Regions from separate parts of the Homo sapiens genome. Here region 2 is linked to region 1. Evidence: fine-mapped expression QTL. Tissue or cell type: lung. Region 1 holds a variant in brackets; the other region holds the start of a gene. Each region is shown on its reference strand, or each on the opposite one. Region 1 has its middle 120 kb from the start of LINC01505. Region 2 holds the start of RBP2 (retinol binding protein 2).

Region 1 (2,919 bases):
GCTGGCTATGGACAGAAACATAATAAATGCAGTGCAAGAACATGGAGTAGATCATATAGTTTGCCTCTGCCCGCATGTGTTCTAAATTCCCTTTCTTGCAACAGGTGTCAGGAGGCTGGCTTATCAAGTGGGTGTTCTAGAAGTCTAAAGGAGGAGGGAAGGGGTGGTATGTGATTTGGGCATGTAATTAAGGGACTATATATTAATAGAATCAATAGTTCAGTCTAGACCTAATCTAGTAAATCAATGGGTCACTCAGCTGAGGATGAAGACCAGTAACATGGTCCACAGCCGAGCATGGGGTCTGGGATATGAAGAGGAAGTGGCTGAGACAGGTACTGGTTCTCACCTGTTTGTTGTGATGGAGTAGGTGCAAGAACTATGCTTAAAAAAAAAATAATCCTCAAAAGTTTTAACTAATTCAGTAATCCAAATGTATTAAGATTATTTTGGCTTCAAGTAATGAAAGTGTGGTGGCACATGCCTGTTGTCCTAGCTACTTGGGAGACCGAAGCAGAAGAATCACTTGAACCTGGGAGGCAGAGGTTACAGTGAGCCAAGATTGCACCACTGGGCAACAGGAGTGAGACTCCGTCTCAAAACAAAACAAAAAAAAACAAAAACAAAAAAACCCCCTAATTCTAAGTGGCTAATACAATAAGGAAATGTATTATTTCATATTACAAGAAATTCAGAAGTAAGGGGTCTCCAGTGTTGGTTATTCAGTAGAGAGATGGTAGTATCAAGAATGAGGGTCTTTTTTTCTTTCACATCTGCCACTGTTGTCTTTATTCTCAGCCTACGATTCTCTCTTGGTTGCAAAATGGCTGCTGCAGTTGTACATAACACAGCCAGACAAGACAATGTCCAGAGAAAAAGAAGAGACCAGCTTTTCTTATGTGTCTTTTGTTGATTTTTTTTTTTGAAAAGATATGCTTTCCCACAGTTCTCCAGCTCACACCTCATTGGCTGGAATTACAACCATACCACCATGCAAACCAATGTCTGTTCAAGGGGAATGGGTTCATAACCCACTCCTGGGGCTGGAGCTAGCAGGGAGCATAGGCACCAACAGTATTTTTCTTCCCCAGGCTGCCTCTACCTTGAACTTCTGACTCAAAACCTTTGCCAAAAAAATATCCTTTTTCCTCCAAGCTCCTGCTCCACAGGAGAAGGACTGAATTTTGAAAGAATTAATGAATTTTTGTTTGTAGACTCCTTTATGTACTGGAAACATAGTTAATGGGCCTACCTCCATGGATTGGGTGTAAGTTAT[A/G]GAGCCTGGAGAGCAGTCCAGGGATGTTGGAGATTAGTTGCACGATGCATAAGAGTGATTATGTTTAATCACTCTATTTTCTCCCGCCTCTTATAAAAAGCCGCCTAGGTGTGGTTTGCCAATAGTATCAATCTGTTTCAGCTTCTAGGCCAGTAGTATTTGCAGTTATGTGGCCCTGGAGTGACATTTTCTGTCACCATTAACCAAAGGAGCCACATGAGCCTAGTATAACAGAATATTCTAATACAGAAATGAAAGGTCTTGCAGCCTTGCAGGCTGCAAAAGAAGGACCCACTCTCAGCCTATTATCTTTTGCCTGGCAGTGTGATTTCCTTAGACAAAGCTCCAAGTTTGGCTTTATATCCACAGGGAAAGAAACTGGTCAAACTAGTTTATTTTTAATCCTTTGTTTTCTCTCCACCAGTTTTTCACTTTGAAAACCTTTTTAGACCACCAAACAGATAAAGTTATGTCAAAGAAGAAAATCAATCAAGCTGAATGTTTCATATATGTTCAATTCAATTCCAAATACACTTTTCGAGAATCTACAATGAGTACAGTATAGAAACAGATATTGTGGAGAATACATAACTTCATAAACATGACATTGTACACACACATTTTCTGAGAACATGTTTTGGCTGAGTACTTGGATAAGTTTGGGGATGAATAAGAGATTTTCCTGTTTTCAAAGTATACATGTTCGGGGTGAGAGAAGGCAAAACAGACACGTAAATAATCCACAGAATTTCATTATGATATATCAGGTTAGTGCCAGTTGCTGTGGCATCAAAGAAATAACCAAGCCAAGGCTAGAAAGAAAGTGAGGGAAGCCATTGCCCTGGAAAAAATTTTTGGGTGAGTATAGAGGAAACTCTTTGCCCTAGAAGTGATATTTAGGTGAGTATTGAAGGGAAATAAGGGTTTTACAGATGACCTTGAGTCTCAGTTTTCAAAAGTAGAAATAAGACATTTACACCAAAAGCTATAAGAAAAGATAGAATGTGCAAAGTTCTCTAAGAGGGCATCATGGAATGTTTCGAGGACGATCTTTTGTTCTGGGCTTTAACTATTGAGTGGGGTATTGATGTTAGAAATGGGCCAACAGTATTCCATGCAGAGTGTACACTGTAAATGTGACAGGAATAAGACAAACTAAAATAATTTATTTTTTCAATTTTTTTTCCCTTACCCTATGTCCTAGCCTGGAAGAATTTTTTTTGTTTATTGAGTTAGCTCCAGGGCTCTTACCGGAAAGTTCTAAGAAGTCAGGGAGGCTGAAATGATACAGATATGAAGAGCTTAGGAAGGGAGACAAAAGAACCTGAAGGTGGGCTTGAAGAATATCTTGGAGTGGGAGCTTAGAGTTGGGGAGAAGAGAGACTTTAGGTGAGCCTAGGCATATCGGGGGAAAGGAAGGAAAGAAATGGGAGAAGAGAGGTTTTAGGAAGTTTTTCTATGTTCTCGCTTTGGGTATGTTTATGAAAGACTGCAGTAAAGATTAAATTATTTGTATGTCTATTTGGGTCAGGGTTGATATACCTATGACACACACTGAATCAAGATGGTGCCATATGGCACGTGGGCTTTATGTGAGTTACATTTGCTAAGGCATGAAAGTGGTAGAGCACTAGCAGAACTGG
Region 2 (2,919 bases), not on the chromosome of region 1:
TTGCAGGCAGGAGGGACGGTGGAGGCCCTGGAATTTGACCTGGGAGGGACTATCTACTTCTCCAGCCCAGGAGGCTGAATGCTCAGTCTACAGCAGCTTCTGGCTGGACTTCACAGGATGAATCTCCAAGGTTTCTTATCTGTCTACTCCTTCCTCCACTCATTTTCCATTTGTGGTAAAGTTATTTCTTTCTCACCCCTTACCTTTCCCCATTGGCCTTTTGACAACAGCTGGGCCATTTTTCACTCTGTCTTCCTAACTCCAGTGTATTTACTGAAAGATAAATGTGCTGTTTTATATCCCTCGTACCACACACAGAGTCATTTACTTAGATTTCACAGCACAAGGATACATATATGAGAGCTGCAGTGTCATCATCAAAATAGGTCTCACTTTGGGAACTCATGGTATATCTGTCTCAGGCCACACCTCCATTCTTCACAGTCACTTCTCAGACACCACATCTTGGAATAGAGTGTCAGAGCAATAAACTAAACCCATTTCCATTGGGACAGCCCATTTGGAGAACATTCCTGAACCAAGGGTCCTTGTCCAGCTATGCCCCCACTTTGATCCAGGTGATCCTCAGCTTTCCCCTTGGATCTTAAAACAACATTCCACTACCCCTCTGCCTCCATCTGGACTCCCTCCAGGCTCAGCTTGCTTTTAGCAGAATCATGTTCCCAGAAAACACTTTTCTCATGTCTCACCCTGCTGCTAGGAAGTCCACAGGGCACCTTGCTTCCACAGGGAAGCAAGAGAGATTTGGTCTCTTAAGTCAGGCTCCAAACCTCTTTCAAAGCTGACCTAGCACACTGTTGAAGAAAAGGATTTGGAGCCCAACAGATCTGAGTTTGAATCCTGGCTCAACCACTTACAAGTTGTGATTAGACATGTGATTTAACCTCCATGATCCTTTCTCATCTGTAAAATAAGGATGGTTAAACATAACTCACAGAGCTCTTGTAAGCTGAAACAAGATGAAGTATGCATGCTGCCTGGAACAGAGTAGAGTAGAGCTCCACAGGTGTGAATTCTGTCTTTTCAGTTTCACCAGCCTTGCTATGAGTGCTGGATTCATGGCTGATAGACTCCAGGCTTGAGGCCTGGGTACTAGTGACCCATAGTACATGTGGGGTAGACCCTGGATGTTTGTTTTCTTCCATTACTGGATGAAATGTTCTGTGTGGGACAAGGGGCCCATGGGGACCCAGCCAGCCAAAAATGAGCTGCTCTAGGGCCCTGCTTATGGTGCAGGACACTAGGACACCCACGCCTGGCCATACCAGGACTTTGTTCGTGGGTTACCTATAGTCTCGCTGAACTTTACAAAGAAAAGTTCTTTTGAGTTGTGCTTCTGCCCTTTGAACCTCTTATCTTCAGAGTCACAAACCTGGCCCACTAGGCTATAAAAGAAGCTCATTCCAGTGTATTCTCCCTGCAGCCTGCTCCTTGCCATCCACCACAAACCCTCACCGAACCAGTGGCCACCACCATGACAAGGGACCAGAATGGAACCTGGGAGATGGAGAGTAATGAAAACTTTGAGGGCTACATGAAGGCCCTGGGTAAGGAGGAGACTGGGGATGGGGAGGGTAGCTGTTGTTGGGAGTACTGTGGTCTGGCCCTCCAGACAGTGCTGCTATGGAGTTCAACAGACCTGTGGCAAATCCTCATGCCTCATGTACAGCTGTGCAATATTAGGCAGATCATAAGAATTCTCTGAGGCTCAGTTTTCTCATCTGGAAACTGGGAATAATGATAAATGAGATTATGTCTAGGATGCCTTAGCACAGTGCCTGGCCCACAGAAAACATACACTGAATGTGTATGTCAGGAGGATACACACACAACAGAGTAAAGCCAAACTTGAGAGGATAACACAGTCGCTCTTCTGCCTTGTGACCACCATCTCTCTGATAACCACTTGGACCTGATATTATCCACCAATGACCTCTGCATTGTTCTTTTATCAGTTTTGTAATGGGGAAGCAGAAAAGAAATAGCTAGCAAATCTCTCAGCCTAGGGAAAATCAAGCTCATGGAAGCCTAGAGAGGCTGTTGTCAGATAGCACAAACAACCCACTGCTTATATGACTTCTGAACTGGGTTCCAGGCCAAGGGCTACCAATTGGTGCATGTCCTGAGTTCACCACAGAGTGGGTTCCCTGTGGAACTGGCAGAAAACACATAGCCCTGCCCAGCCTACAGGTTCTGCCTGGGACTAGAGTGAGTGGGTCCCCAGAGGGGAGCTCACAGTTACTGGGTGGCTCCTGTGCTCCAGGTGCTGAGCAAGGGGCTTTGGCTGCCTGACCTTATTCCATCCCTCAGCAGCCTCTTTATCACCTCTTCTAGCTTTAAAGTTCTCCACATATGGGGTAACTTCGCTGGAACTTCCTCCACATGCAGAATGAGAGAAACGGCAGTGGGTGGAGTTAGAGGCCCAATAATAACTTGGATATGATGGTGGGAGGTCTCTCCAAGAGTGGAAATCATGAGTTTTTTGGTGTGATAAACTTCTAGCTTGAAAATGTCCACCATGTCAATGAAAAAGGAGAGCTGTGATATGTTCCATATTTGTGGAACTAAGCACTTTCTTCATGTTCTTTTTTTTTTTTTTTTTTTTTTTTATTTTGGGGACAGAGTCTCGCTCTGTCGCCCAGGCTGGAGTGCAGTGGCGCGATCTCAGCTCACTGCAAGCCCACCTCCCGGGTTCATGCCATTCTCCTGCCTCAGCCTCCAGAGTAGCTGGGACTACAGGCACCCGCCACCACGCCTGGCTAATTTTTTGTATTTTTAATAGAGACGGATTTCACTATGTTAGCCAGGATGGTCTCAATCTCCTGACCTTGTGATCCACCCGCCTCGGCCTCCCAAAGTGCTGGGATTACAGACGTGAGCCACCGCACCCGGCCTCTT

The links. PIP is the estimated chance that this variant, and not a neighbour inherited with it, causes the effect.
Region 2: it holds the start of RBP2, and the variant in region 1 is fine-mapped to the expression of RBP2 in lung (TOPMed, PIP above 0.99).

Annotation. Positions count from the first base shown.
Region 1 is chr9:106,732,707-106,735,625 of GRCh38, reverse strand. No RefSeq gene overlaps it. Among named protein-coding and RNA genes, the nearest start is that of LINC01505, 120 kb to the right of the region's middle. The variant A/G (reference allele first, on the strand shown) is at 1,277.
Region 2 is chr3:139,475,036-139,477,954 of GRCh38, reverse strand. RBP2 (retinol binding protein 2) reads left to right here and starts at 1,439. Exons shown (of 4, transcript NM_004164.3): 1 at 1,439-1,568. The coding sequence starts at 1,496. The region is part of intron 3 of COPB2-DT (COPB2 divergent transcript); the gene reads right to left.